7 linked regions of the Homo sapiens genome follow. The gene in region 5 interacts genetically with the main gene of each other region. Each region holds a gene or a part of one and is shown on either strand. Other genes may lie near its edges.

What was found.
Region 1: changes in PPP2R1A (region 5) and ARIH1 together harm fitness more than expected from each alone (negative genetic interaction), as found in Homo sapiens cells (one large-scale study listed by BioGRID).
Region 2: changes in PPP2R1A (region 5) and TIMELESS together harm fitness more than expected from each alone (negative genetic interaction), as found in Homo sapiens cells (one large-scale study listed by BioGRID).
Region 3: changes in PPP2R1A (region 5) and YTHDC1 together harm fitness more than expected from each alone (negative genetic interaction), as found in Homo sapiens cells (one large-scale study listed by BioGRID).
Region 4: changes in PPP2R1A (region 5) and COPS5 together harm fitness more than expected from each alone (negative genetic interaction), as found in Homo sapiens cells (one large-scale study listed by BioGRID).
Region 6: changes in PPP2R1A (region 5) and PAFAH1B1 together harm fitness more than expected from each alone (negative genetic interaction), as found in Homo sapiens cells (one large-scale study listed by BioGRID).
Region 7: changes in PPP2R1A (region 5) and CCNK together harm fitness more than expected from each alone (negative genetic interaction), as found in Homo sapiens cells (one large-scale study listed by BioGRID).

What each region holds. Positions count from the first base shown.
Region 1 is NC_000015.10:72,578,407-72,582,706, forward strand, and holds part of ARIH1 (E3 ubiquitin-protein ligase ARIH1), read left to right. Parts: intron 1-2,324; coding exon 2,325-2,585; intron 2,586-3,668; coding exon 3,669-3,781; intron 3,782-4,300. UniProt on the Homo sapiens protein: E3 ubiquitin-protein ligase, which catalyzes ubiquitination of target proteins together with ubiquitin-conjugating enzyme E2 UBE2L3.
Region 2 is NC_000012.12:56,439,007-56,443,306, reverse strand, and holds part of TIMELESS (protein timeless homolog), read left to right. Parts: intron 1-4,300. UniProt on the Homo sapiens protein: Plays an important role in the control of DNA replication, maintenance of replication fork stability, maintenance of genome stability throughout normal DNA replication, DNA repair and in the regulation of the circadian clock.
Region 3 is NC_000004.12:68,339,873-68,344,172, reverse strand, and holds part of YTHDC1 (YTH domain-containing protein 1), read left to right. Parts: intron 1-4,300. UniProt on the Homo sapiens protein: Regulator of alternative splicing that specifically recognizes and binds N6-methyladenosine (m6A)-containing RNAs.
Region 4 is NC_000008.11:67,048,173-67,052,472, reverse strand, and holds part of COPS5 (COP9 signalosome complex subunit 5), read left to right. Parts: intron 1-1,131; coding exon 1,132-1,243; intron 1,244-4,300. UniProt on the Homo sapiens protein: Probable protease subunit of the COP9 signalosome complex (CSN), a complex involved in various cellular and developmental processes.
Region 5 is NC_000019.10:52,210,292-52,214,591, forward strand, and holds part of PPP2R1A (serine/threonine-protein phosphatase 2A 65 kDa regulatory subunit A alpha isoform), read left to right. Parts: intron 1-968; coding exon 969-1,201; intron 1,202-2,394; coding exon 2,395-2,542; intron 2,543-2,663; coding exon 2,664-2,819; intron 2,820-4,300. UniProt on the Homo sapiens protein: The PR65 subunit of protein phosphatase 2A serves as a scaffolding molecule to coordinate the assembly of the catalytic subunit and a variable regulatory B subunit.
Region 6 is NC_000017.11:2,666,371-2,670,153, forward strand, and holds part of PAFAH1B1 (platelet-activating factor acetylhydrolase IB subunit beta), read left to right. Parts: intron 1-621; coding exon 622-828; intron 829-3,783. UniProt on the Homo sapiens protein: Regulatory subunit (beta subunit) of the cytosolic type I platelet-activating factor (PAF) acetylhydrolase (PAF-AH (I)), an enzyme that catalyzes the hydrolyze of the acetyl group at the sn-2 position of PAF and its analogs and participates in PAF inactivation.
Region 7 is NC_000014.9:99,498,079-99,502,378, forward strand, and holds part of CCNK (cyclin-K), read left to right. Parts: intron 1-2,111; exon of another isoform or gene 2,112-2,687; coding exon 2,688-2,793; exon of another isoform or gene 2,794-3,277; coding exon 3,278-3,335; exon of another isoform or gene 3,336-4,128; coding exon 4,129-4,298; exon of another isoform or gene 4,299-4,300. UniProt on the Homo sapiens protein: Regulatory subunit of cyclin-dependent kinases that mediates activation of target kinases.

The sequences.
Region 1 (4,300 bases), on a different chromosome or scaffold from region 5:
TGCATCTTTACGTTTGTTTACATTTCTCTCAATGTGAATGGTACCATATACGGTCTGTAAGAGTTTGTGTGCATAAGTTTTGATAAATCTCAACTTTTTATTAATAGATTTATGTATATTTTATCGTAGTAAATCATAAGATAGGCTACATATGTCTTATGCATTCATGACAACTCTTTTTCTTAATTTTGGTTTGTCCGCAAGTGTTTTCAAATTGTTGGCAAACCTCCAAAAAATATTTCAATATATTTATTGAAAAAAATCCACATATAAAGTAGACTTACAGTTTAATCCTGTGTTGTTCAAGGGTCAACTGTATATGTTTTAAAGCAATACTCTGTTGGTATCAACTATCTATTGTTCAAATATCCCCAATTATCTTAAATTTTGCTTTTTTTTGTTTTTTGGTGTTTTGTTTTTTTTTTTCAGAGGTAGAGTCTCGTTCTCTCCCCAAGGCTGGAGTGCAGTGGTGCAACTCGGCAATTCTCCTGCCTCAGCCTCCCAAGTAGATGGGATTACAGGCACATGCCACCACGCCCAGCTAATTTTTTGTATTTTAGTAGATACAGGGTTTCACTGTGTTGCCCAGGCTGGCTCAAACTCCTGAGCTCAGGCAATCCACCCGCCTCAGCCTCCCAAAGTGCTAGGATTACAGGCATGAGCCACCACACCCAGCCTATCTTAAATTTTCTTTTATAGTTGGTTCAAATTGGGATCCACATAGGTCCACAAATTGGATTTAATTGATATCTCTTGAGTCTCCTCTACCTGTTGTTCCTTCTCTTCCCCCCTCCTTGCTTTTTTTTCTTTGTTGAAGAAACTAGATCGTGTTGTCCTGTAGAGTTTCCCACATTATGGATTTTGCTGGTTGCAACTGCATGGTGTCATTTAATAGGTTCTTCTATCCCTGCATTTTCTGCACTGGTGATTAATTCAAGAAACTTGATCAAATTCAGATTCAGTGGTTGGGGGGGGAGCCCAGAATACTTAATTGATTATACTTTCTATTGTATTATATCAGGAGTTACATGGTATGTAGTTGCCACTGTAGTTTTCTACTTAAAAATATCTCTGCTTTTTGCTTGTTTTACATCTTGTGGCATACTGTAGAACAGTGCCATCCAGTAGAACATTTTTGTAATGATGTAAATGTTCTTTATCACCAGTGTCTAATTTGGTAGTCACTAAGCACATGTGACTATTGAGCGATGAGGAACTGAATTTTTAGTTTCTTAAATTGAATTTTAAGTAGTCAGGTGTGGCTTGTGGCTACTGTATTGGAAAGTACAATTAATAGGACATTTTTCAAGAGTATTAAATAACAAAAGTAGCAGTAGATGTCTATTCCTGATTTTAGCCTAGATCACAGTACTGTTTCATCAGTAAATCAGCTTTTTAAATTATTAATATTTTTAATGGACAAATCATAATTATACACATTTATGGAGTACAGTGGAATGTTTTGAAATATGTAAACAATGCAATGATTAAATCAAACTAATTGTTGTATTGCCTTGCCTTAACATTTTTATGGTGAGACATTTGAAATGATACTTATTTTGAAATATATATTATTATTGACTATATTCACCCTGTTGTGCAATAAATCTCAAAACTTACTCATCCAGTCTATCTGAAACTTTGTACTCTTTGGTCACCAACTCCCCATTCCCTCCCTTCCTACCCCTCTATCCCCGCAAGCCTCTGGTAACCGTCATTATACTCTGTATGTCTGTGAGTTCAACTTTTTTAGTTTCTACATATAAGCGAGATCATGTAGTATTTCTTTTCTGTGCCTGGCTTATTTCACTTAGTGTAATGTCCTCCAGGTTCATCCATGTTGTCACAACAGAATTCCTTTTTTGAGGCTGAGTACTCGTGTGTGTGTGTACATACATGACGTTTTCTTTCTGTGTTCATCCATTGATGGACACTTTACATGGATTCCATGTCTTGGCTATTGTGAATAATGCTGTAGTGAATGTGAGAGTACAGAGATACCTTTGACATACTGATTTCAATTCCTTTTCATATATACACAGTAGTGGGATTGCTGGATTCTGTGGTGGTTTTGTTTTCAGTTTTTTAAGGAACCTCCCCATACCATTTTCCATAATGGCTATACTAATTTACATTCCCATCAACAGTGTATCAAGAGTCTCCTTCTTTCTTTATCTTTGCCAAGACTTATCTTTCATCTTTTTGATAAAAACCATTCTAACAGGTGTGAAGTGAGACTTCATTATGGTTTTAATTTGATAATCAGCTTTTATGTACAGTTTATGTGTTATAATTATATCACCCAATTTTTCTTAATGGGACAGCGATCTAGGGCAGCCCTGCAGAGGTACCTGTTCTACTGTAATCGCTATATGAACCACATGCAGAGCCTGCGCTTTGAGCACAAACTATATGCTCAGGTGAAACAGAAAATGGAGGAGATGCAGCAGCACAACATGTCCTGGATTGAGGTGCAGTTCCTGAAGAAGGCAGTTGATGTCCTCTGCCAGTGTCGTGCCACACTCATGTACACTTATGTCTTCGCTTTCTACCTCAAAAAGAATAACCAGTCCATTATCTTTGAGGTAGGAGTAGTTCTGGGTGAGGAAAAAGCCCACCTTGTATCATAGGTCTACCTGATCTTTCATATATAAGATACAGAGTTTTCAGGGTTCTTGTTTGTTCAGAACATGTAGGTAGACGAATGTATTTATTACAAAGATACAAGAAATTTCTATTTCTTGTCCTAAATTATATTCAGATCGATGTGGTTTAGCCAGCTAGTGATTAGGTATGCAGGTTCTGGAGTCAGCCCTAGATTTTAATCTTTACTTCATTATGTTTTAGCTCTGTTGATTTGGAGCAAATTCCTTAACCTCTTATTTGTCCATTTTAAAGTGAGGATAGTACCTTTCTAGGTTGTTATGAGGTTTAAGTGAGACAATTTGTGTTTTATGTGAGACAATTTGTGTTAATTGCTATACGGCACCTGGAACATCATAAGTTCTCAATAAAAGCCTTTATTCAGGCTAAACTAACCCTGCAATATTAGAAGTTAATGTGGTGGTTATCTTTAGTGGAGAAATAATGACTAAAAAGCCAGCTTTTAGCAGTAAAGGTTTTCTCAAGTAAAGATGTTCATTTAAAATTGATGCATAAAACATTGATATCTGTATATGACTAGACAATAAGACTGACTAGCAGATGGGACTTCAGTTGGGTAACAGGTACAAAACTAGCCATAGTGGTAAAGGATGATACAATTTGAATCTTCCATACAGTGTTTTCTTATAAGAAATAAGTATAGCCAGATGTAAGCAATAATAGGTTTCTATTTTTTCTCATTTACCTTTGAGTTTTCAGCAAAGAGCAGCTCTCAGAACGAGAAGATTCCAAAAGACATTTTAAATCCTTTCAAATGGTCTTCAGTATTCTTCCAAAAGTAATGGGTGAAATCTTTCGTTCTTTTAACATTTAAAAAATTGTTCTGGAAAAGAACAAACAAGTTATTAGAGATGAAAGCCCATAGAGCTTTACAGGTGCAGTTAAACCACCTATGAAAGTTACAGAATGAGTGTTGAGAGCAGTCTGTAGTCAACAAAACAGTGAAAATGGTTTATCTTTTAGCTTTATTTTGAAGCCAAAATTTACTTTCATTCTTCTTACAGAATAACCAAGCAGATCTAGAGAATGCCACAGAGGTGCTCTCGGGCTACCTTGAACGAGATATTTCCCAAGATTCTCTGCAGGATATAAAGCAGAAAGTACAAGACAAGTACAGGTAATTTTTTTTTAAGCTGTTGAATAAAACTTTCTGCCAGTGATGATCCTTACTGGTAAAGTTCAGTGATAGTGAAACTGGGTTTAGCATATCCAGCAACTGAGCTTTTGCCATGTTTCTCACAGATTGCTTCTGTCCGTTGGGCACTAAATTGCAGGTAATAGTATTGGTGAAGCATACATAGAGAAGGAATTCAGCCATTTATTCTATTGGCTAATTCCACTTCTGTTCAGTTATTTAGTTGCTACCTTGCAAGGAAGAAAGAATCCAAAAAGGCCAAGTGGCCTTTAGGATGAGAGTGAGAATTGAATGTTGGTCTTAGCCTGAGAATCCTATGTATGGGTCATGGCTATTCACAAATGAGCTATGGAAACTTACTTTTTAGAGTTTTTATTACATATATATATATATATTTTTTTAATCTAAGGAGATACTTGTCCTAGGAGTCGATTTTTCAAGATGTGCCGCCTCTTAAGCTAGAGATGCAAAATGTTTTATTTCTCAACATGAAGCTCTTTC
Region 2 (4,300 bases), on a different chromosome or scaffold from region 5:
TATAGGCCTACCCCTGGGAATGCATTCCTTCCCCAGGGTTATCAATTATTAATATTCCTTGCTGGGAAAAGAATTCAGTGATATTTCTCCTACTCACATGTCGTTTATAGGCTCCCTGCAAGAAGAAAACTATGGCTCTATTCTGCCTGACCCCCCAGGCAGTCAGACCTTATGGTATCTTTCCTTGTTCCCTGAAAATCGCTGTTGTTCTGTTCTTTCTCAGGGTGCCCTGATTTCATATTGTTCAAACACACGTTTTACAAACAATTTGTACAGTTAATGCAGTGATCACAGGGTCCTGAGATGACATACATTGTCAGTTTATGAAGATGACGGGATTAAGAGATTAAAGACAGGCATAGGAAATTATAAGAGTATTGATTGGGGAAGTGATAAATGTCCATGAAATCTTCATAATTTATGTTCACAGATTGCAGTAAAGACAGGCGTAATAAATTATGAAAGTATTAATTTGGGGAACTAATAAATGTCCATGAAATCTTCACAATTTATGTTCTTCTGCTGTGGCTTCAGCCGGTCTCTCCATTCGGGGTCCCTGACTTCCCGCAACATCATCTATCTTATATCACTATAGAGGGTCGTTTGGTTTTCTCCAGCACATCTGGGCCTAGATTTGAATTGAAGTCTAGGAAGCAGATGGTTGCATTGATCTGAGGTTATGTATGGTCTTTTGCAGGGTGAGTGCACTGAAAGGAAAAGAGATAGAGGCCACACGGGAAAATGGCCAAACTGATGTATATAGTGATACAGTAGTAGGATATGTGTGACCCTGGTTTGATCATTTTGTTTTCTAGCTCAGAAATCTTCAGTGGCTCCCTGGCTTAGGTTCTAAATCTTTGAACTGATGGACAAAGATGAGGTTTTTCCCATAAAGCTGGTTCCAGCTGCTTTTCCATTGCTTTCCTGTTGGACTCATCTATTCATAATGGCTCCCTCTTTGGTTTTGCACTGGCAGTTCTCTGCTTAAATGCCCATCCTATTCCCAGCTGCCTTAATCCTATGCAGCTTTCAAAGGCCCAGTTCTAATCATGCTTCCTCAGACAAAACCTCCTTGACCACTTTAACCTGAAAAGAGTACTAGTTTTTTAGTTTTTTTCAGTATCACGTATTTAGAGCTTGTACTGCCTTATCTTTTACATTGTTTGTTCTATATTTGTGGATTTTATTTCTGCAACTACATTTCTTTTTTTTTTTTTTTTTTTGAGACGGAGTCTCACTCTGTCGCCCAGGCTGGAGTGCAGTGGCACGATCTCAACTCACTGTAACCTCCACCTCCCTGGTTCAAGTGATTCTCCTGCCTCAGCCTCCCGAGGAGCTGGGATTACAGGCACCCGCCACCACACCTGACTAATTTTTTGTTAGTTTTAGTAGAGACGGGGTTTCATCATGTTGGCCAGACTAGTCATGAACTCCTGACTTTGTGATCCACCCGCCTTGGCTTCCCAAAGTGCTGGGATTACAGGCGTGAGCCACCGCGCCTGGCCTCTGCATCTACATTTCTTAAATTTCTTTAGCGCTACCATTGCACCTGCACGCTATCTTTTGCCAGGAAGGTTCTCCCTAAGCATTTAGTAACTGACTATAGAGTCTGACAGATGGAGAGGAAATTAATATTTGGGGCGGGGGAGGGGTTCTGTTTGTTTTGTTTATTTGTCTTTTGAGACAGGGTCTCACTCTGTTACCCAGGCTGGAGTGCAGTGGCACAATTTCAGCTCGTTGCAACTTCAACCTCCTGGGCTCAAGTGATCCTCCTGCCTTAGCCTCCTGGGTAGCTGGGACTAAAGGTGTACATCAGCATGCCCGGCTGATTTTTGTGTTTTATTTTTTGTGGAGACTGGGCTTCGCTATGTTGCCCAGGCTGGTCTCAAACTCCTGGACTCAAGTGATCCTCCCACCTCAACCTCCCAAAGTATTAGTATTACAGGCGTGAGCCACCATGTCCAGCCAGGGATTCTTACTTTGTGCTCAGCACTGGGTAGAGTGCTTAATATCACTGCTTCTCAAACTGTCTTGGTAAAGGACCAGGTAGATTTTTCCCTCAAGCTGTTGCAGATCAGTAGTGTTCTAAAAGCACTTCTGTAAAATAAAATTACTAGAAAAATAACATTTAAAAAGACATAGAGAATACAGGCTTTTTATTATTATCATCATTAGATTCAACAAACATTGGCTGGGTGCAGTGGCTCATGCCCGTAATCCCAGCACTTTGGGAGGCCGAGGTGGGTGGATCACTTGAGGCCAGGAGTTCAGCAGCCTAGGCAACATGGCGAAACCCCATCTCAACTACAAAACACAAAAAAATTAGCCTGGCATGGTGGCACAGGCCTGTAATCCCAGCTACTTGGGAGGCTGAGGCACGATAATAGTTTGAACCCGGGAGGCAGAGGTTACAGTGAGCCAAGATCACGCCACTGCATTCCAGCCTGGGTGACAGAGGGAGACCCTGTCTCAAAACAAAACTGTAAACTGCCTGTCAAATTGCCCTAAGATGTTCTAAGTGCTAATGCTTTCTTTCTGTACTTACCTTGATGCAGACTGCTAATAGTTTGTGGATTGGCAGTGGTCTGAAGACCAAGGTTTGAGTAGCATTGCTTTACATGATCTCATTTACACTTCCCTAATATCTTGTGAGGGTGGGTATTATTATTATTTCCTCAGTATACTGATAAGGAAAGAGATTTAGTTAAGCCACCTGCTCAAGTTCACCAGTTTAGTACCAGACAGAATTGGAATTCAAGTGCTAGATGCCATTTTGTTCATACTACTGGGTCTCAAAGAGGATCCTTGGAGCAGAGTTGGTTTGGGGCAGGTAGAGTGTTTTGTTTCGTCTTCAAAAAGTAAGTTTATTTGGTCGGGCGCAGTGGCTCATGCCTGGTATCCCAGCACTTTGGGAGGCCCAGGTGGGCAGATCATGAGGTCAGGAGTTTGAGACCAGCCTGGCCAATATGGTGAAACCCCATCTCTACTAAAAATACAAAAATTAGCTGGGCATGGTGGCGCGTGCCTGTAGTCCCAGCTACTTGGGAAGCTGAGGCAGAAGAGTTGCTTGAATCCAGGAGGTGGCGGTTGCAGTGAGCTGAGATCGTGCCACTGCACTCCAGCCTGGGCGACAGAGCAAGACTCTGTCTCAAAAAAAAAAAAAAAAAAAAAAAGGTTAATTTGAATTGCAAATACATTTAATATTTTATCTGTTGTTTTCTTTTGGTTCTTGCATTTTAATGCCTCCAAGTATTGATTTCAGATGCATATTGCTTCATCTGAACTGCTTGATACTTAGTTGAGTAGGAAAAGTAACTAACATCCCTTTTAAATGTCCAGTTCCATTGGCTCTGTGGTGTTTGACAAAGTTCTCACCTGGTCTATGATGAAATGTGAAAATAAAGTCAATGTAATGAATTTTTTCATGAAGTCATATTTATTAAATTTGAAGGACAGTATTTTATCCTGAGATTTTTGTCTGTAGTTTTTTTGGTGTTAAAATGGTAGAAACAGAATGCGTATAGTAATTGTGTGGAGTGTTGTTTATAACGGCTGTTTGAGATATAATTCATATACTGTAAAATTCACCCTTTTAAAGTGTACAATTCAGGCTAGGTGTGGTGGTTCACACCTGTAATCTCAGCACTTTGGGAGGCCAAGGCAGGAGGATTGCTTGAGGCCAGTCAGGAGTTTGAGACCAGTGTGGGCAACATAGGGAGGTACCAGCTCTACACAAATTTAAAAATTAGCCAGATGTGGTATTGAATGCCTGTGGTCCCAGCTGCTTGGGAGGCTGAGGTGGGAGGATTGCTTGGGCCAAGGAGTTGAGGCTATAGCGAGTCATGATTGATCTGTACTCCAACCTGGGCTGGTCAACAGAGTGAGACCCTGTCTCAAAAGAAAAAAAAAAAAAAAGAAAACCCCTGTACAATTCTGTGATTTTTAGTATATTCAGAGAGTTGTACAACCATTTCTGCCCACCTCAGCCTCCTAAAGTGCTGGGATTACAGGCGTGAGCCACTGTGCCCATATCAGCCTATTGCATTTGCCTATTCTGGACATTTCATATAAATTCCATCATACAATATATGACCTTTTGTGTTTGGCTTCTTTTTTTTTTTTTTTTTTTTTTTTTTTTTGAGAAGGAGTTTTCACTCTTGGTGCCCAAGCTGGAGTGCAGTGGCACGATTTGGGCTCACTGCTACCTCCACCTCCAGGGCTCAAGCGATTCTCCTGCCTCAGCCTCCCGAGTAGCTGGGATTACAGGCGCCCGCCACCATGCCCAGCTAATTTTTTTGTA
Region 3 (4,300 bases), on a different chromosome or scaffold from region 5:
GATTCACCAGATACAAACTCATTCACCAGATACAAACCCAGATTGTCTCATGCAAAACTTTGACATATGTTACCTTCTCTGTGTCTTAACAGAAGACTAGACTCTTCCAGCTGGTTGTTTTCAGGTGAGAATCTGGGCCCCTAATAATCAAATAGTATTTTTTTAAGTGGGTTTTCATATTAAATCCTTAGAATTTTTAAAAACAGCATTCAAGAGCTGAGTTTATCCTCTAGACTGCTAGTGTAAAACTTTTAGATAGATTTGAATTTTAGCTCTAAATGTAAATACTGTTTAATGTAGGATTGTTTCATTAAGCTTATTTCTTGAACTGGCACATTATAAAAAAATCCATCTTTTTGTGACATCTTAATTTTGGAACAAAATTTTATAGATTTTAACCTGAGGTCAGGAGTTCAAGACCAGCATGGCCAACATGGCAAAACCACTTCTCTACTAAAAATATAAAAATTTAGCTCGGCGTGGTGGCAGGTGCCTGTAATCCCAGCTACTTGGGAGGCTGAGGCAGGGAGAATTGCTTGAACCTCAGAGGCGGAGGTTGCAGTGAGTTGAGATCATGTCACTGCACTCCAGCCTCGGCAACAGTGAGACTGTCTCAAAAAAAAAAAAAATTTTTTTTTTTTTTTTTTTAAAGATTTTAAGTGATTTTTTAAGGCCGGGCACGGTGGCTCATGCCTATAATCCCAAGACTTTGGGAGGCCAAGGCAGGTGGATCACCTGAGGTCAGGAGTTCGAGAACAGCCTGGACAACATGGTGAAACCCTGTCTCTACTAAAAATAACAAAAATTAGCTGGGCATGGTGTGGCGGGCCTCTGTAATCCTAGCTACTCGGGAGGCTGAGGCAGGAGAATCACTTGAACCTGGGAAGTGGAGGTTGCAGTGATCCCAGATTGCGCCACTGCACTCCAGCCTGGGTGACAGAGAGAGACTCTGTCTCCAAAAAAACAAATTAAAAAAAAAGTGATTTTTAATGTCTATAGTTCTCTATATAGACATCTAAAAAAGGCTTTCAATGTGAAGTGCTTTATGTCATAGAAATTAGGATTTTTGTAGTGCATGAATTGTATGCTTATAGGCCTTTTCTTAACCTGGCATTTCTAATCTTTGTTTACTGTTGTTATTCTTGGGTTGGGATACTACTGTCAAACTATTATGAAGTAATTGAAAGTATACATATCTCTATATAGAATATCAATAATGTTAAATTTCAGGACAAAGGAAATGGTTAAAAACGTTTGTTCAGGTAGGTTAAAAGAAAGTCAACCTAGAACTAGTGGATATTACTTTATATCTAAAAGAGATAATTATTTCTTTTCAAAAAGGATATGCCAGTGATGATTATAGTCTTTAACAGCAGTAGCTTGTGAGAGTATTAAAATGTTTCTTCTTTTATAATTCATTCTACGTTAAAAAAATGAATTAAAATGTATGCAAAGTGTACTTTTTCAAGTCAGTGAAGAATATGGCCAGAAGCAGCAGTTTACATTAGCTTTATAACTTAATACTATAAGCTTTAACATTGACCTATTTAAATGAATTTTTGTTATTAAAAATGCACCTCAAGTATATAATTAAAATATTTACCCTTAAATAAAACTATAGTAATTTTGGAAACATCTGTCATGTATTATGTATGACACTTCTGTCAACAGTGATTGGAATATGTGTCCCCTCTGTTTGAAGCTAGGTAAGCTTTTGTGATGAATAAATACTGTGATGGTGTTGCTGGATTTCTACCTGTTCCCGTCTCTGTTGGGACACGAGAGTCCTAAACTACCATGTAAAAGATCTGCCTACTCGGTGGTTGCCATAGTAATGAGTAATCACACACACAGAAATGTTGGAGAAGCTCCAGCTTTGAATCTTCCCAGCCTAGACATCAACGAGACTTGTCAATGAACAAGCCTTCAGATGATTTCAGCCCCAGCCCCAGCCCCATTTGACTGCAGCCACATGGGAGACCCCGGTTGAGCCCTGGAACCATGAGCCATAATGAAAGGTGTTACCATTTTAAGTCAAGTTTTAGGGTGATCATCTTATACAGCAGTAGATAATCAGAACATGTATGCATATACCATACCTGTTTTGTTGAAGAAGGAATTTTGTTTTGTGTTCTGGACCAGATTTTATATATATCACATAGCCCAGTCATTAGCAAGAGGGTTGGGGCAGGCAGGTTTTATTAAAGTCCAATAGTTATAAGGAAGGAGAGTCTTCTTACAGGTTGAAAAACTCATAGAAGATTCAAATGTCCTGCTTTTCCTTTCCCCAAAACTGACCTTTTTTAAGTGCCTCTTATCAGAGGTGAAGAATCTTGAACTCAGAAAGACTGGGAATTTCCTGATACCTAAATGCAAGCTATAACCTGCATTTCCTTAACCTCCAAGACTTTTCCCCTTGTATATTATATTCCAGTGTATATATAAGGAGTTTCAGTGATGGAGAAAAGTACTTAAAATTTGGTCATTTGTATTATATCAGGGGTTGGCAAAACTCTTTGTAAAGGGCCAAATAGACTTTGTGGGCTGTAAGTGTTCTCTGACATATTCTTTGCTTTTTTTTTTTTCTTGTTAATAAGCGCCTTAAAAACGTAAAAACCATTCTTGCAGGCCATTCTAAATAGGCAATGGGCCATGTTTATCCTGTAGGTTTTAGTTTGCCAGTTTGTGGTAAAACCACACAGTTTATTGATGTTATGGACTATAATACGGATAAAAGTGTGTACATCATTTAAGTGAGGGTGTTATAGTTGATTTTGAATATTTCAGTAGATTTTAAATGTTGTAATGTTAAAGATATAGAGCTTTCTGGTGCACTAATTTGAAATTTATGTTCTAGTATATATGCCCTTTTAATATTTTGCATTTGTGTTCTTTATACTTTGGTTAAAGTTGCTTTTATTGTTCCCCATCTGATTTAACTGTCAATTTCTAAAGCCGGAACTTCATACTAATATCCATTTGTTACTAGACAAGTGTATTTGGTCAACTGGAACATTTGAGCTTCTCTTTCTTTATCTGCAAAGTAATGAATGATTAAACATGCTCTATTTTATATGATTTGTATATATGATATATTTTAAAAGTGATAAAATTTTAAAAGTGACAAAGTATTTTTAAAAAGTAGTAAGCATTGGTTAATATTTGTTGTCTTGAAAAAGGTTGTAGGTGCTTTCTAAAACTACAACCAGTATCTGAATTTGAATTCGTTAAAACTTTAAAACAGTAATACCCCTTTTTATAGGAAAACCAGGCTTTAAGTGTGTTTGAAACTTAAATTTATTTAAATTAACATTCTGCAAAATTATTTCATTCTGTATTAAATTTAGCATGTCTAAAGTATATAATATAAATGTTCAGGGTTCGGGGATGATATTTCTGAATAAGATCTAGTGATTTTATGAAAAGATTTGTATAGCATTATTTGCCTGTTTCATTGTGATAGTCTTGAAATTTTTTCTTTTTGTCTTCTACAAATGTATTTGATTCTGTGAAGACCTGTTGGATCTACTTTTTTACTGATTAGTGAGCTTTGACCCAGTACTTATTAAACATCTGTAAAACATTGATTTACTTCTATCAGACTATTTTTTTTATAATTTAGAGTCCGAAAATGGTGTTTGCCACCATTCAGATCTTGAAGAAATTTTTCTTAGCAAAAACATGAATCTAGATGATGAGAGAAGCTTTTTTGTTTGACATATCTTGATTTTAAATAAGATTTTTTAAAAGTAAACAAAAATAAAAACCCATATAGCCTGTTTTCATTTTAGAAAAATGATAGAAAGTACATATCAGCATTGGTACCACCCAAAATGATCAATTTTGCTATTCCAGACATAGTAATTTTCAGATATCTTTAGATTGTGTCTGTTTCCAAATGTAAAGGAAAATGATATCTTTTCCATTTCCTATGTAACCTTATCGTTTGTATTAACTATTCTCTTCAGTCACAGATTTCTTTCCCACTTTGGGGAAAATTTGAATCCCATTTAACCTGTTTATAGCCCCCAGGTTAATTAATAGACCTTTCTGTAATTCATGTGGGCTTTGTTTTTTTCCTGAAGCCACAAATGTAATTGTTCTGTCTCATCAGTTTTCATGGCTTTATACTTCCTCTTTGGCACACCTTAAATTTGGAAAGATGTTTTTGATATTGGAATAGTTAATGTTTAAACATTTACTATTAGCATTAGTACATTTTAAAATTTAAAATGGTATTTGTGTGTATTTCTAAGGTTTATCTTGTTGGACAAGGTAGAAGTGGGGACAAAACTGAGTT
Region 4 (4,300 bases), on a different chromosome or scaffold from region 5:
GCACTCCAGCCTGGGTGACCAAGCAAGACTCTGTCTCAAAAAAAAAAAAAAAATTCTTAACCTTTTGTGTAACATCCTTCACCACCTAGACCCCAGCATAGCTTTCTAGCTTCCCCTCACATAATTCTTCTCTTGCTAAATTTTCCAGCTAAACCCATTGCCTTATTATCTCTTACATGTCTTTCCTTTTTGTGTGTTGATGCTCTCTGCCTAATGCCCTCCTTGCTCTCCACATATCCATACCATAGACTCAAAAATGTTTACCCTACACCTTGCCTTTTCCCTGAGGCTTCTCAGGCAGTTCTAGCTTGAGCTCCTCTATATGAAGAATACTTATTATCTCTAACCCTTAGTTGGTAGGTGATTCATTTTATATAGCACTGTAGCATCACTTATTGTTATTCAATGTATATCATTATATTTAATTTTGATGTGGGTTTAGACCACATCCCCCATATAAATGTTGAGTTCCTTAAGGTAAAGATGTCTCATGCTTTTTTATATCCACTGATACACAGAAGCATGTGTAAGTTTAAGATGTAAGTTTACATCTTAAAAATATATGTATTTTTCAGACATTTAACTAGATTTTTCCTTACTATGCCCTGATGATAAATTAGGCACCTTTGAAAGTGGGAGCAATTATTTTAGATGCCTTAAGGACCTACCTTAAAATTTGCTTTTCAAAAAGCAGTAGGTCCTAACTGGGGAATTAGGAAGGGAAGAATGGAATCCACATGTCATTTTTATTATTTTAAAGAGGCTAACAAAAATTATAGTTGACCCTAGAGAGGCAGCTTATTAAGTTTATGTGCTGTTGGCTTGAATTTATGAACTCAGTAACAGGAATAAACTTGTCATTCAGAAGTTTTGACTGGTTGTTAATAACATTTGGGGAATTTCTGGGCTCTACAGAAAAAAAGGAATAAAACAAGAAGTTTAGTAGGAGATTTGGATCCACAACCCTTGAAGTGTGAGGAAACCATGGTTAGCTATTGCCTTATTGGAATAAAGACTAAAATGTGAATATTTGAGAATAAAGTGTAACTCACTTAAATCTGGCCATAAGTTTTATGTGACGTAGTTGAATTTTTTTTTTTACTTACTAAATTTTATGCTTTTATTTCATAGATATTATGCCTTAGAAGTCTCATATTTCAAATCCTCTTTGGATCGCAAATTGCTTGAGCTGTTGTGGAATAAATACTGGGTGAATACGTTGAGTTCTTCTAGCTTGCTTACTGTAAGTACTATACTTGTAAAGAATGCATTTGAATTTTATCTAAGCTTCATAGCCGTTTAATATCTGAAACACTGTTTCACAGAAAGGCTATACCTGACTTGGCCAAGACACCAGGGCTAGGGTGGGATTCTGCACCACCACAGCTGGATTAGGATTCTAGGCCAATTCAGGATCTGTGTCATGACCCACAGAGACCAAGTCTAAGTAGCAAACAGAGTGTCCAGATCAGGGTGAGATCTGCCCCTGCCATAAGGAGATTTATGGATTAAAAAAATACACATATTGATTTTTGTGTATCAAGTGTCTCAGCTTGGACTCTGGTTACAAGTAACAGGATACCTAATGAAACGAGCTTAAACAAGAAAGGGAATTGTGTAAGTTGCAAAGTTGAGGAATAGGGCTTAACTCAGGCACAGCTAAGTTTGCATTCAACCAATATTATGAGGTCTTTTTTTTTTTTTTCTTTCTCTTAGCATTGATTTCATCTTAGTTAACGCTAGTTTCAGGCTTCATGTGAAAGCAAGACGGCAGCTTTAGCTTTAGACCTCCAAGTCTCTCAGCTTCATGTTCAAAAAGAAGGTCAAGATACACACACACACACACACACACACACACTCTCACACTCACATATTTCCAGGTCAAGATACACACACACACACACACACACACACTCACACTCACATATTTCCGGGCAAAACTTCATTGTGTCTGACTGGCTTTACTTAATCACATGCCCATGTTTAGGCCTGGTGTGGGCCAACTGAATAAGCTTGATGAGCGGCTTGCGCCACGGCAAGTGCTTTACTGCTGAGCCGCAGCGTAGAAAACTCCTTCAGGAGCTCAAGGACTAAAAATGGGGAGGAGAGGTTCCCAGAGTGAATCAGAAGAGCATTACTTTAAAGCAGTAGATACTAGGAGAAAAAAAAAGAGGCCGGGCGCGGTGGCTTACGCCTGTAATCCCAGCACTTTGGGAGGCCGAGGCGGGCGGATCATGAGGTCAGGAGATCGAGACCATCCTGGCTAACACGGTGAAACCCCGTCTCTACTAAAAATACAAAAAATTAGCCGGGCGAGGTGGTGGGCGCCTGTAGTCCCAGCTGCGCGGGAGGCTGAGGCAGGAGAATGGCATGAGCCCCGGGGGGCAGAGCCTGCAGTGAGCCGAGATCGCGCTACTGCACTCCAGCCTAGGTGAAAGAGTGAGACTCCGTCTCAAAAAAAAAAAAAAAAAGAGAGTATCACTGAATTTTTTCTGATAATATCATAAAAACTTAACATATTTGGTAGGATATTATTTAACAAACTTCTCTATATTTAGAACTTAGGAACAATTTTTTTATTTTTCTAAAAAAGTAGGCCATTTCATATACTGCAGTATATATAGTGGTTAGAACCACAGGATTTAGAATTAAATAAACTGGGTTTGGAGAATATGAGCTACAGCAGCAGGAGTCATAGCAGGACCGGCACTTAGAAGTTTCTTATGCTCTTTGATGGAGTATTGGTTGAAAGGAGTACAGCTGAAACTGTAACCAAAGGAGGCATTACGCTTCCAGAAAAATCTCAAGGTAAAGCATTGCAAGCAACAGTAGTTGTTGGATTGAGCTTTCAAGGAAAAGGTGGATTCAACCAGTTAATGTGAAAGTTAGAGATAAAGAATTATTCTCCCAGAATATGGAGGCACAAAAGTAAAGAACTACTTTGCAACTCTTCAGGTTTATTCAGTTGACCTGGAAGGCCAAGGATTTTTTTTTTTTCTTTTTCTTTTCGAGACAGGGTCTCTGTCTCTGTTGTCCAGGGTATTGTGGTGGCACGATCTCAGCTCACTGCAGCCTCAACTTCCCAGGCTTGAGCGATCCTTCTGCCTCAGCCTCCCAAGTAGCTGGGACTACAAGGGTGAGCCACCACACCTGGCTAATTTTTGTATCTTTTTGTGGAGACAGGGTTTTGCCACGTTGCCCAAGCTGGCGTTGAACTCCTGGGTTTGAGCAATCTGCCCGCCTTGGCCTCCCAAAGTGCCATTACAGGCCGTGAGCCACCATGCCCAGCCAGATTATTTCTTATTTAGAGATGCTGACATTCTTAGAAAGTATGTAGACTGAAGTAAATCACTATTGAAATGCCATCAACATGAAGCTGCTCATTGCACTTAAGTTCTGAAATATTTAATTATGTAAATAATTGCCATGTCTCTTCTATAATAAACAAATGATATCTATACTAAAAAATAAAACTGACTTTGAAAACAACTCTGCCACTTTACTAGTTCTGAATGACTTTCAGAAAGTTATTTAATGTGACTAAGCATTTCTTTGTTGTAAAATGTTGATATGCTACATACATCATTAAGTACTCTGAGAAAATTAAATGGGCTACTTTATATAAAGCAATTAGCAAAGTGTCTGGCATATAATAAAGCCTCAATTAATGATTTTTTTTAATTTGGTGCATTATATTCATGGGAAAAGACCTCACTTAAGCCTATTATTTACTGGAATTTTTTTTTTTTTTTTTTTTGAGATGGAGTCTCACTCTGTCACCCCGGCTGGAGTGCAGTGGTGCAATCTCAGCTCACTGCAACCTCCACCCCTCCAGGTTTAAGCAGTTATCTGCCTCAGCCTCCGGAGTAGCTGGGATTACAGGTGCGTGCCACCACGCCCGGCTAATTTTTTGTATTTTTAGTAGAGATGGGGTTTCACCATCTTGGCCAGGCTGGTCTTGAACTCCTGACCTCGTGATCCACCCGCCTCAGCCTCCCAAAGTGCTGGGATTACAGGCGTGAGCCACCGCGCCCGGCTGGAATTTTTTTTAGGCTAGTCAAGTGAAGCAGTGTATTTACTGTTATTTTAAATACAACTCTGACAAGCTTTCTGTTCTTTTTTTCCTTTTTTCCTTTTATTTTATTTTATATTTTATTTTATTATTTTATTTTACTTTATTTATTTTATTATTTTATTTTATTTTGAGACAGGGTCTCACTCTGTTGCCCAGGCTGAAGTGCAGTGGTGCAATCACATCTCACTATAGCCTGGACCTCCTGGACTCAGGTGATTTTCCCAC
Region 5 (4,300 bases):
CACAGTCATTCTAGGCCCACAGTAACAACCAGCGAGCAGTCCCGAGCCCCATAGTCCCCCAGAAACATGAGATCCCAATTCAGTCACCAGAGCTGTGTGTAACTGTTCATGGGAAGCTTAGGTCAGGTTTTCGATCCTGACCTGTAGCTATTACTAGCTTGGGCAAGCCAGGCTGTACCTCAGTTTTCTCTTCTTTTTTTTTTTTTTTTTTTTCTTTTTGAGACGGAGTCTCGCTGTGTTGCCCAGGCTGGAGTGCAGTGGTGCGATCTCGGCTTACTGCAGCCTCTGCCTCCCGGGTTCAAGGATTCTTCTGCCTCAGCCTCCCGAGTAGCTGGGATTACAGGTGCGCACCACCACACCCAGCTAATTTTTTTGTATTTTTAGTAGAAACGGGGTTTCACCATATTGGCCAGGCTGGTCTTGAACTCCTGACCTCGTGATCCACCCGCTTCAGCCTCCCATAGTGCTGGGATTACAGGCGTGAGCCACTGCGCCCGGCCCGTTTTCTCTTCTTTAAAATCAGGACTTGCTTTATAGAATTCAGTGAGGAAGAACAAGCACCCCTGGTACAACACGGAGGTCCTGCCTAGTACACACAGTGAGTAGATGTTCTACACAGTGTCAGTGATGATCATTGCACTTTGAGAGGCTAAGAACTTTCTCCTCAGAAAGCAACGTGTGTAATTTTAAGGTTTATGGACCCCAGTGAAACTCCTTCAAGGACCCCTAAATAAGAACCTTTGTGGAAGGCACGCTGACAGAGACCTTCTGCTGGCTGGCATAATATTACGTTTTTCCTTTGAGTCATTCATTGCAACCATTTTTAAAGGCTATTTTAATGAAGGTCGGGATGGGTAATAGGGAAGTTTTCTCTGAGGAGATGAGCCCATGATGGGGTGCAGGATGGGGCTCCAGGGCTGCGGATGGTGGAGAGGGAGCTGTCCAGTGACTTTGTGTTCTCACCACAGCCACCGCTGGAGTCGCTGGCCACAGTGGAGGAGACAGTGGTGCGGGACAAGGCAGTGGAGTCCTTACGGGCCATCTCACACGAGCACTCGCCCTCTGACCTGGAGGCGCACTTTGTGCCGCTAGTGAAGCGGCTGGCGGGCGGCGACTGGTTCACCTCCCGCACCTCGGCCTGCGGCCTCTTCTCCGTCTGCTACCCCCGAGTGTCCAGTGCTGTGAAGGCGGAACTTCGACAGTGAGTCTCTGCCTCCTTGGAAGCTCCAAGCTCCCATCTCAGCTCCAACCTTCTCTAAAGCCTCAGACTCCTTTTGGTCTAGCTGGGGCCCAAATGCCCCTGAACTCTCTCCACTCCCACTCCTGCTTACCACCTGATAGGCCACATCCTCGAGAGTTGGTCTCTGGACACGGCCACGTGTCAGTTTACCCACCTCTGCCCCCTTGCTCACTTAGGAATTGAGATGATGACAGGTCCTCCTTCCCACTGGTTAATGTGAGGATTTAAAAGAATTATCACACATAAAGTGCTTAGAGCAAAATCTGGAACATAAAAACTTTCAGCAACTTACATCTGATGGTATCTCCAGCCTGTCCCAGGTCCAGTGCCTTTGGCAGATAAACCACCTCAGTTTTCAGCCTCCTGCTCGTCTACTTTGCAAACGATTGACCGTCAAGCCCGGGTTTGAGCCTGACTCACTCCAGAACTCTGGTTTATGGCTGTACACTTGCTTAGATACTTACACTGGCCCCCACCGCCTTTGATCGAAGCAATTGCTGCTGAAAAATAAAGCCTTTCTGTGGCTCTAGACCTGCCTCTTAGTTAAGCAGTTTTTTGTTTGTTTGTTTTTTGAGATAGGATCTCGCTCTGTCATCCAGGCTGAAGTGCACTGGTGCAGTCATAGCCCACTGCAGCCTCAACCTCCTGGGCTCAAGCATTCCTCCTGCCTTAGCCTCTCAAATAGCTGGGACCACAGGTGTGCAACACCACGCTGGGCTCATTTTTTATTTTTGGCAGAGATGGGGTCTCACTATGTTGCTCAGGCTGGTCTTGAACTCCTGGGCTCAAGCAATCCTCCTGCCTTGGTCTTCCAAAGTGTTCAGATTACAGGTATGAGCCACTGTGCCTGGCTCGTTGGTTAAGCAATTTTTATGGGAATGATGTAATCGTCAGCACTTAGCATTGACTAGATTTATTATGCGCAATCTGCGAAGTGTCTCACACACACTATTTTCATTTAAACCTCATGCGGACCTGTGGGGTAGGTACTGTTACTATCAGCTCCGTTTCATAGGGCTGGGAAGACAGAGAGGGGGTCATCACTTGCCCAAGGTCATTCAGCTAAAACCTGGACCCACACAACTGCAGAGTCTGTGCTTGCTCCTCTCTGCCATACTGCCTGCTGCCTCAGGATCCCCGTCCCCGACTCCCAGGTACTTCCGGAACCTGTGCTCAGATGACACCCCCATGGTGCGGCGGGCCGCAGCCTCCAAGCTGGGGGAGTTTGCCAAGGTGCTGGAGCTGGACAACGTCAAGAGTGAGATCATCCCCATGTTCTCCAACCTGGCCTCTGACGAGCAGGTGAGTTTTGCTTCCTGGCCCTCTGCTCTCCCGTCCTTCTGGTGGTTCCTGCCCATGAAAGAGAATCCCAGAGCTCAGCAAGGCCTCTGCTGCCCTCCCACTGTTCCTCTCCTCTCCCTAGGACTCGGTGCGGCTGCTGGCGGTGGAGGCGTGCGTGAACATCGCCCAGCTTCTGCCCCAGGAGGATCTGGAGGCCCTGGTGATGCCCACTCTGCGCCAGGCCGCTGAAGACAAGTCCTGGCGCGTCCGCTACATGGTGGCTGACAAGTTCACAGAGGTAGATGAGCGACCGTTGACATTGTCCCACTGGTGGGGACACTGACACTCTCAGAAGGGAAGCATATAGGAGCTGAGGTTTCCATTAGGCCGATGGAACCATTGGGCGTTTGAGCAATAAGATCTCTATGATCATCTAACTGCGTCTCGCTTCGTGTGCCAATCCTGGTTGATTGACATGGCATCTTAAAGTGCTGCCTTGAGAAAGATTCTGAGGCAAAGTTAAGGCTACGTGGAGGAAAGTGCCACAGGAGCAGAGAAGGGTAGCACATGTGGGGTGTTCCTGACATAATCAAGCTGTCCTTTCACAAAGGGGAAGACAGCCCAAAAAGGTGGGGTTTTTTGGTGTTTTTTTTTTTTTTTTTTTTTTTTTTTTTTAAGATGGAGTCTGTCGCCCAGGCTAGAGTCTTGTTACCCAGCTGGAGTGTGGTGGCGCAATCTTGGCTCACTGCAGCCTGTCCCTCCCGGGTGCAGGCATTTCTCCTGCCTCAGCCTCCTGAGGGACTGGGATTACAGATGCCCACCACGACACCCGGCTAGTTTTTGTATTTTTATTAGAGACGGGGTTTCACCATGTTGTTAGCCAGGCTAGTCTCGAACTCCTGACCTCAAGCGATCCGCCTGCCTTCATCTCCCAAAGTGCTGGGATTACAGGTGTTAGCCACCGCGCCCAGCCCCGGAAAGTTTAATTAACTGATCAGAGTGACACTACCAGCCAGGCAGAAAGGGGACAAGACTCCAGGTCTGTGACTCTCAGGACAGTGCTCCTTCCACAGGGATCCAGATTGCCTCATCCCACAAACATGTTTGCTGAGCACCAGCTATTTGCTGGGCCAGTGAATTCGGATCATTCCTGGCCTTCATGGAGCTAGGCAGTCTGAAGGGGAAGACTGACTTAGGGGAAATTTGATTATAAAGTGTCACAGGTGTGGGACAGACAGACAGATGTGGGGCCTTGGAAGCATTGAGGAGGGGAGGTGGTGTTACAGCTGGTTCTAGAAGATGAGTGGGTAAGAGCTAAGATAGGAACTTTGTTCCAGCCAGAGGACAAAGAACCCTGGGAGGTGAGAGCAAGTGCAAGCAGGAACATTCAGGCCTGATCTTGATGGCCCAGCCTGAGAGAAAGCAGGAGAGAGGGCAGGGTGGGATCGGAGAGAGGGCAGGGTGGGATCAGAGAGGCCTTGAGTGCCACTCCACCCTGAGGCGCCCTTTGCCTTTAATTATGCTGGTTCCCACTGGCATTTGCGGGAAGGACTCAGAGCTTCAGAATAGCGTACCATCACCACAGTTAGGGAAGGTTCTTCCCATCCTTGTCTCCTGAGCTGCATAAACTGTGTCACACTGGGTCTTAGAATAAAAATTCCATGAGGGCAGGAATTTTAGGCTGTTAAACCAGTTCTTGGCACATAGTAGACATTCAGTAAATATTTGCAAGATGAATAAAAGGCAGTATTTTCCCAAGATATCATGAGGTCCTTCAAG
Region 6 (3,783 bases), on a different chromosome or scaffold from region 5:
GGAGCCATTGTGATTAATGCTGGGAAAAGAACACTAAAATGTGCTCGTAGACAAGTTGTTTTTATCTCTGAGCTTTTATTTTTATCTGTAAATACAACAAATAATATTCCAGTCCTAAAATGGATACTTCATAGGCAAAGTTAGAATAAGTAAATAACATTGTTATGAGTTCATCATATAAAGCTCTTAGAAAAATGCTTAGCACATAGTAGATGCTCAATAAATATTAGCTTTTATTAATATTATTATTACCATATATAATGTGGTTTGGAAAGAACTTACTAAGAGTAGCAGCCTTAGAGGGACCAAGACAAATTCACTGCCCTTCTCTAATTAGTAGAGGACTCTGTCACCAGATACAAATCGAAATTTTTCTTTTTGTTAAAGAGTTAAGGCAATTGTACTGAATTTTTCTCAATTTTTAGTTTCCTCACATGACTTAGATTTTGATGCTGTACAAAATAAATAATTTTCATTTAAATTTGACAAATGCTTTGGAGATTACTGAAATTTTTTCAAGTATCCTACATACATAGTTGCAAAATAAAGGCAGTTTTTTAAAATGTCACATGCTATTTTTATTGAAATCTATCTGTACGTAACTACATGTTCTTTTTCAAGGTTATGGAATTAGAATCAAAGCTAAATGAAGCAAAAGAAGAATTTACGTCAGGTGGACCTCTTGGTCAGAAACGAGACCCAAAAGAATGGATTCCCCGTCCGCCAGAAAAATATGCATTGAGTGGTCACAGGAGTCCAGTCACTCGAGTCATTTTCCATCCTGTGTTCAGTGTTATGGTCTCTGCTTCAGAGGATGCTACAATTAAGGTAATTTTTTGTTAAAAGCAGACTTAACGGGAGGCTGAAGCAGGAGAATGGCATGAACCCGGGAGGCGGAGTTTGCAGTGAGCCGAGATTGCACCACTGCACTCCAGCCTGGGCGACAGAGCCACACTCTGTCTCAAAAAAAAAAAGCAGACTTAATAGGGTGAAGAAAATTAAAAGATCCTGAAAATGAGGGCCTATGAAGAGGGACAGGAGGTACTCTGAAACGTGTGATTTGGTTCTAAATCTTAAAAGACAGAATTGGAATAAAATATCATTGTGGCTCCTGAGAGGCATGCTGCCAGGTAAGTTTGATGGTGAATTTGAGAAAGTCGGGTGTCACTAACTGAGTTGATGTCAGTACATCACCTTGTGCTTGAACAATTTTTGTTCTTGGAGAATGAAAAGTGTGTGTCTTACCTTTAAACGGAGGTTATGTGTGAAATACTGATTGACAAAACTAGTAATTGATAGGGTGAATCTATACTGCAAAAGAATTCAGTAGAGGATTCATTTAAATTGGGCTTTCCTTGATGTATTTAAAATTGGCTTTCCAGGAGTGTGGGAATATACAAGCTTTTCATTTTATAAATTACGTATTTCATTAAAAAATTTTTTTCACAGTAAAAATATTATTACCTTTTAATGTTGTGCTTTTTTAATTAGGAAAAGAGTTGTTTTTAAGTTGCCTTTGTTCCGGACACAATAAAATGACCGTTGTATAAACCACCTACAGAAAGATAAGATAGTTGCAATATAGGTAGATTTAGGTAGATGCCTCTATCCTAAGGGTTATTTCAAAGTAAGTTACAGATATTAAGTTTCATTTACAAAAGTATAACCAATCGGCCGGGCACGGTGGCTCACGCCTGTAATCCCAGCACTTTGGGAGGCCGAGGCGGGTGGATTGCCTGAGCTCAGGAGTTCAAGACCAGCCTGAGCAACACGGAGAAACCCCATCTCTACTAAAATACAAAAAAATTAGCTGGGCATGGCAGCGTGCGCCTGTAGTCCCAGCTACTTGGAAGGCTGAGGCAGGAAATTCGCTTGAACCCAGGAGACAGGTTGCAGTTAGCCAAGATCGCTCCACTGCACTCCAGCCTGGGCGACAGAGCGAGACTGTCTCAAAAAGGTAGTTACAACTAACCAAATAGTAACGACGGTTTGGCCTTACTACTAACAGCAGAAGAAATAAACACTGAAATTATGGGCCGGGTGTGGTAGCTCATGCCTATAGTCCTAGGACTTTGGGAGGCCAAGGTGGGAGGACTGCTTGAGCTCAGGAGTTAGAGAGCAGCCTGGGCAACATAGCAAGACCTCGTCTCTACTTAAAATTAGCCAGGTATGGTGGTGCATGCCTGTAGTCCTAGCTACTCAGGAGGCTGAGATGGGAGGATCACATGAGCCTGGGAGTTGGAGGCTGCAGTGAGCTATGATTGAGCCAGTGTACTCCAGCCTGGGCGAAGAGTGAGACCCTGTCTTAAAAACAAAAAAATTGGACTGGGCACGGTAGCTCATGCCTGTAATCCCAGCACTTTGGGAGGCCAAGGTGGGTGGATCATGAGGTCAGGAGATCGAGACCATCCTGGCTAACATGGTGAAACCCCGTCTCTACTAAAAAATACAAAAAATTAGCCGGGAGTGATGGCGGGCTCCTGTAGTCCCAGCTACTCGGGAGGCTGAGTCAGGAGAATGGCGTGAACCCGGGAGGCGGAGCTTGCAGTGAGCCAAGATCGCGCCACTGCACTCCAGCCTGGGCGACAAGAGTGAGACACACATACATATATATGTGTGTCAAATTGTCAAGGTATTTTACCTATTAAATAAGAATTCCCAGTGATGATAAGATTTTGATAAAGTAGTCATTCTCATTACATATGATACAGTCTTACGGGATATCAATTTAATAGAGTATATGAAGGCTTTAAAAGTTTATACTTTTTGACCCACTAATTGTTTCTCCCCATTACTGTCTGACCTAGGTATTATAAAATGAGGACAGAATTTTTTTATATTAAAAAATGTTCACTATAATGTTTTCTATAATAGTGATTTAGCCAGCAATTAGAATTTTTTTTTTTTTTTTGAGATGGAGTTTCACTCTTGTTACCCAGGCTGGAGTGCAGTGGTATGATCTTGGCTCACTGCAGCCTCCGCCTCCCAGGTTCAAGCAATTCTGCCTCAGCCTCCCGAGTAGCCGGGAGTACAGGCGCCCACCACTGTGCCTGGCTAATTTTTTGTGTTTTTTAGTAGAGACGGGGTTTCACCATATTAGCCAGGATAGTCTCGAACTGACCTCGTGGTCCGCCCGCCTTGGCCTTCCTAAGTGCTGGGATTACAGGCGTGAGCCACTGCGCCCGGCCATATTTCATTTTTTAACTCAAAATGACATATGCTCTTGTTCATTTGCTATTCGTGAACAGTTAACATCTTCTGAAATCTTTCCTTGGCCCTTTAGATGTCTGAGTTCTGATGGTCTAGTAGGATCGAGTATTCATCCATTGTTCCTCAAATATTCTACATACAAATGCCTGCTATAGCCCTCTGAAGCTCCTTCCCTTCCCCTTCCCTTTCCCCTTTCTTTCCCTTTCCTTTCCATCTCTTTCTCTTTCTTTCCTCTTATTTCTTCCCCTTAAGTTTCCTTATTTACATGTCATTCCTGCTCTGAGACAGGGAGCGGACTATGTCTTGTGACTTTATATACCTTATCACTATTACAGTTGGTTATGTGATAGAAACCTTATAAATGTGGTTCTAGAGATAGATTTTAATAATTGCAACATTAGTTTTCCCTGTAGAAAAAAAGACCAATTTATACATGAGATACAATATTTCTAAAATAGTTATCCTTTGTTACTTGTTCGGTTAGTTACTCAGTAAGGTGCCAGACTGGCCTGCTGAGTGCAAATGTGAAACAAGAAAGGAGTGATGGAGTTGGTGTTAACCAATTTTCTGTTC
Region 7 (4,300 bases), on a different chromosome or scaffold from region 5:
AGCTGTGCTTAAGGATAAGGCATCACACAGATCTGGGACCACAGCAGGGCATGGACTCGTGGCAGCTGCTGGTTTGTGCCATCCCAGGGTGCCTTGGAGAAGCCCCCTTTACTTTTAGCCTTTACCCACTGTACCATGAAGTCAGGAAACCAAGCCCCAGTCCAGGAACAGTGAAAGTAGAAGTTCTGAAGCTCCTGTGCCCCAGAAAATGGGAAAAGAGGGGTCACCATACCAATTAGGTCTGAATGGGGGAGGGGGCTTTGCAACCTGCCCCCTGCCTCTCTATCTCGCGCAGTCTTCCCTGGTCGGAGTCGGGGCCAAAGGAAAACACCTGGAGCTGGGAGCAGTGAAGACATTGGGGAAGATGTTTTCCTCTGCAGACAGGAGGGCAATTCTTTAGTGGAGGCAGTATAAGTATTTAGGAAAAATAAGATCATGAGTCCCATGGAACATTTTTTGCCTTAATTAGCTTTATTTTAATTGTGTGGCTTTTCTCTGTAATATTCGTTTCAGCCTTTGTGTTGGGCACTAGACATGAGGCACGAGGCAGAACAGACATGGTCTCTGCTCTCATGGACTCTGCAGTTGAGTGGCAGGATAAATTTTAATCAAATGAGTATATAACTATTTGATGATGAGTTGTGGTGTACGCTGTAAAAGGTCATTTAAGGTGCTGTGATAGCATTCCACCCAGGGACCCAGGCAAGTCCCCCGGATAAATAGGGGCTGAGGGAAGGCGTTCCTGAGGAATGATGTTTGCTCAAAGACCTATAATGACCCCATTAATTGAATATTTGGAAGACAGAGGGAGGGCAGGCCCTGGGCTATCCTGTAACAGTATGTGGGCTACAGCCTGCAAGCCAATTGGTACACTTGGTAAAAAGAATTGTTTCTAAATTTAGAGGAAGTGTTGAAGCTTCTGGGAAGCAGGTGGTGACAATGACATTCAAAGAAAAAAATTGTTTTGTTTTGTTTTTTGAGATGGAGTCTCACTCTTGTTACTCAGGCTGGAGTGCAGTGGCACAGTCTCAGCTCACTGCAGCCTCTGCCGCCCAGGCTCGAGCGATTCTCCTGCCTCAGCTTCCCAAGTAGGGGACTACAGGCGCCTGCCACCATGATTGGCTAATTTTTATATTTTTGGTAGAGGTGGGGTTTCAGCATGTTGGCCAGGCTGGTCTTGAACTCCTGACCTCAAGTGATCTGCCCGCCTCGGCCTCCCAAAGTGCTGGGATTACAGGCATGAGCCACCATGTCCAGCCCAGTTTTTTTTACACTGTGTGAAAGTTTCTAAGATTTTAAAAAACTTTCATGAGAAAATGCTTGGGAAACTAAGATTGAAAAACCTTAGTCTTGCCATGTAATTTGGAATAATAATTATAGAATCATCTCTGTATCCTATAAAATAATACCATGCTTCTAAATGAAAGCCAGTGACCTGTGGGTCTCTGCACCTGTTGATGAGATTTACAGTCCTCTACAACGCCCTGTCTTTGATGCCAAACAAGGAATTCTCTCAAATTGTCCTCCCCGCACACAGTGTCTTGGTTGTGGTTTATGTTGTCTTTAAGCAGTAGGTACAGTCGGCTGTACAGGGGCTGAGTTCAAGACATTAGTTAGAGAGTATCATCAAAGAGGACATTCCATTAACGATAGCAACAGTAAAATATCCAAGGTTAAACCTTGTGGAAACCTCGTTAGTGGGGTGGAAAGGACTTTAAAACAACTAAAGGACTGAAAAGATATTAATAAATTTTTGGAAGGAAACTTCAATATGGTTAAAAATCTCCATTCTCCCTAATTATTCTATAAATCCTCTGAGTTTCCAATGAGAATATTAATAGCATGTATGTTTTCTGTAATGATACTAAGTAAAATGGTTACTAAAATTTGAGTGAGGGGGACATGCAGAACCCAGAAACTGTTTGAAAAAGAGAAGTAATACTGGAGCTATTGTATCCCACCCAAATCCCTTTGATCCTGGTCCAGGAGTAGACAGGCAGATCAGTGAACAGAAAAGATAGTGTGTGTGTAGGCAGACATACACACGTAGTTTAGGAGGTGATTTAGGTAGCATTTTAAATAAAATTGGAAATGATCATTTATTCAGTAAGTGTTGTTGGGATGATTTATTTCAAATAAATGAAAGATTTAAACACAAAATTGATTTGCCCCCATTTGCACGTAATACACTATATGTGTACATGAGTATATATACACACACATACACACACACTGGTACAATTTATCTCTGAGTTTTCATGAGGCTGGCTATCATAAACTCTTTCTTGCTTAAAATGTTTTCAATGAAAATTCCTAAAAGATTGCATTTTTAAAATTTGAGGTCTTGAAAGAAATTACAATTTAGTCAAATTATCAATAACGTAAAGATCTGTTTTGTAAAGGGAGACTCATGTATGTATTGAAAATAATAATATTTTTAAGGATCTTTTGTTTTCAGTATTTTTTTTTACATTACACCTCTGCTTTGTCTTCCTGTTTGAGATCTTTTCAGAATTTATCAGTGTCTCTGAGCATGTTAAAAGTCTGAGTGGGAGAGAAAGGAAGGAAAGGCAGTTGCTAAAATATAACTTGAAGAGAGAATAAATAGACAGGAAAGCTCACTTTTGTAATGCTGCTTGAGACCTGCAATTGTAATTACTGTCCTAACATTTGTGATTGATTTTTAGGAGGAAGTAATGGTTCTGGAGAGAATCTTACTGCAGACCATCAAGTTTGATTTACAGGTAGAACATCCATACCAGTTCCTACTAAAATATGCAAAGCAACTCAAAGGTAAGAAGAAAGTTTTCAGAAGAATTTTTTCATTCTGAAATCAAGTCTTTATAATTTGATGACACTCAAATTACGCTTCTCAAAAGCGGAAAACAAAGTTTGATGTGTGAAATACCAAGGGCATGGCTTGCTCAGTCAATTCAGCATTGCAGCTGCTAATGCTGTTTCCTTTTATGTATAAACAGGCTCTGTCATCCAGTTGCCAAGTGATGGGAGAGGCAGGAAAATGAGGCAGAATTTTTTAAATGGACTAATAAACTTAGCCTTGGAGCCAGGTTTTCCATACATGGTGGTTCAGCGTAGGTCATGAGGAGGAAGAAGGGGTAGGATGTGGACCCACATCATTCATCCTTGTTTCCCACGCAAAAGCTCTTTGCTGTGTATTTGAGTGGTGCTGAACACGTGGTAGGTTTTTAATAAATACTTGATGCTGCCTGTGAATTTTTCTATTGCTATTAATTTACCTTTTTGTCCCCATTTCTAGGTGATAAAAACAAAATTCAAAAGTTGGTTCAAATGGCATGGACATTTGTAAATGACAGGTATACATGTTCAAATGTTGATTAATTACAGTATTTTAAAATAGGCAGAGACTTTATGGACCATTTCATCTAAACCCCTCATTTTGTGTCAGAAGAAACTGACTTGCCCTGGCTTGAGGAGCCAGTTAATGGCAAAGCTGGGGCTGACGTCCAGGTCATCTGCTTCCCGGCAGAGGGTTTCCTTCTGCCCTGCCGTGTCATGGTGTTGTGAGGTGCTGAAATTTTATCACCAGTCTGAAACATAAGTCCAAAACAATACACTGGAGAATTTTGAAAACTAATTACTTAGAGCCCATTTGGTTTTGCAAAAATATACTTCCTGGTATAGTTTTAGAGCCTTAACACTCTTTTGAGAGGCCAGGGATCTAATGAGGGGCCGTGGTGGGAAACAGAATGCCTGTGAATGGAGTTGCTGCCAGCCCCATCCCACTGCAGTCAGTGAAGCTTCTCTTACATTTGACTTCCTCCATAAGATTTCATTTGAAGAAACAGTTGAGTGGCTAGGATTTCAACAGTTTAAATAACATAAGTCATTTTCATTGGTGTAGCAATTTTTGGATGTGCTAGAATTCTTCTGATTCTTTAAGGAATAGAGAAATTACTAACTATGGTTAAAGTAACTTAGTCGGGTACCTTTAGAAGAGTAAAGACTTGAGTTTATTTATTTATAGTACTTTAATTAAATTTAGGGGAGAATAAGCAAATTAATGGTTAGTTATGGCATCTCCATGCACTGGTTTAATCATAAATATTAGATCATATTATCTAACCTTTTTTTTTCTTGTTGAACTAGTCTCTGCACCACCTTGTCACTGCAGTGGGAACCAGAGATCATAGCAGTAGCAGTGATGTATCTCGCAGGACGTTTGTGCAAATTTGAAATACAAGAATGGACCTCCAAACCCATGTATAGGAGATGGTGGGAGCAGTTTGTTCAAGATGTCCCGGTCGACGTTTTGGAAGGT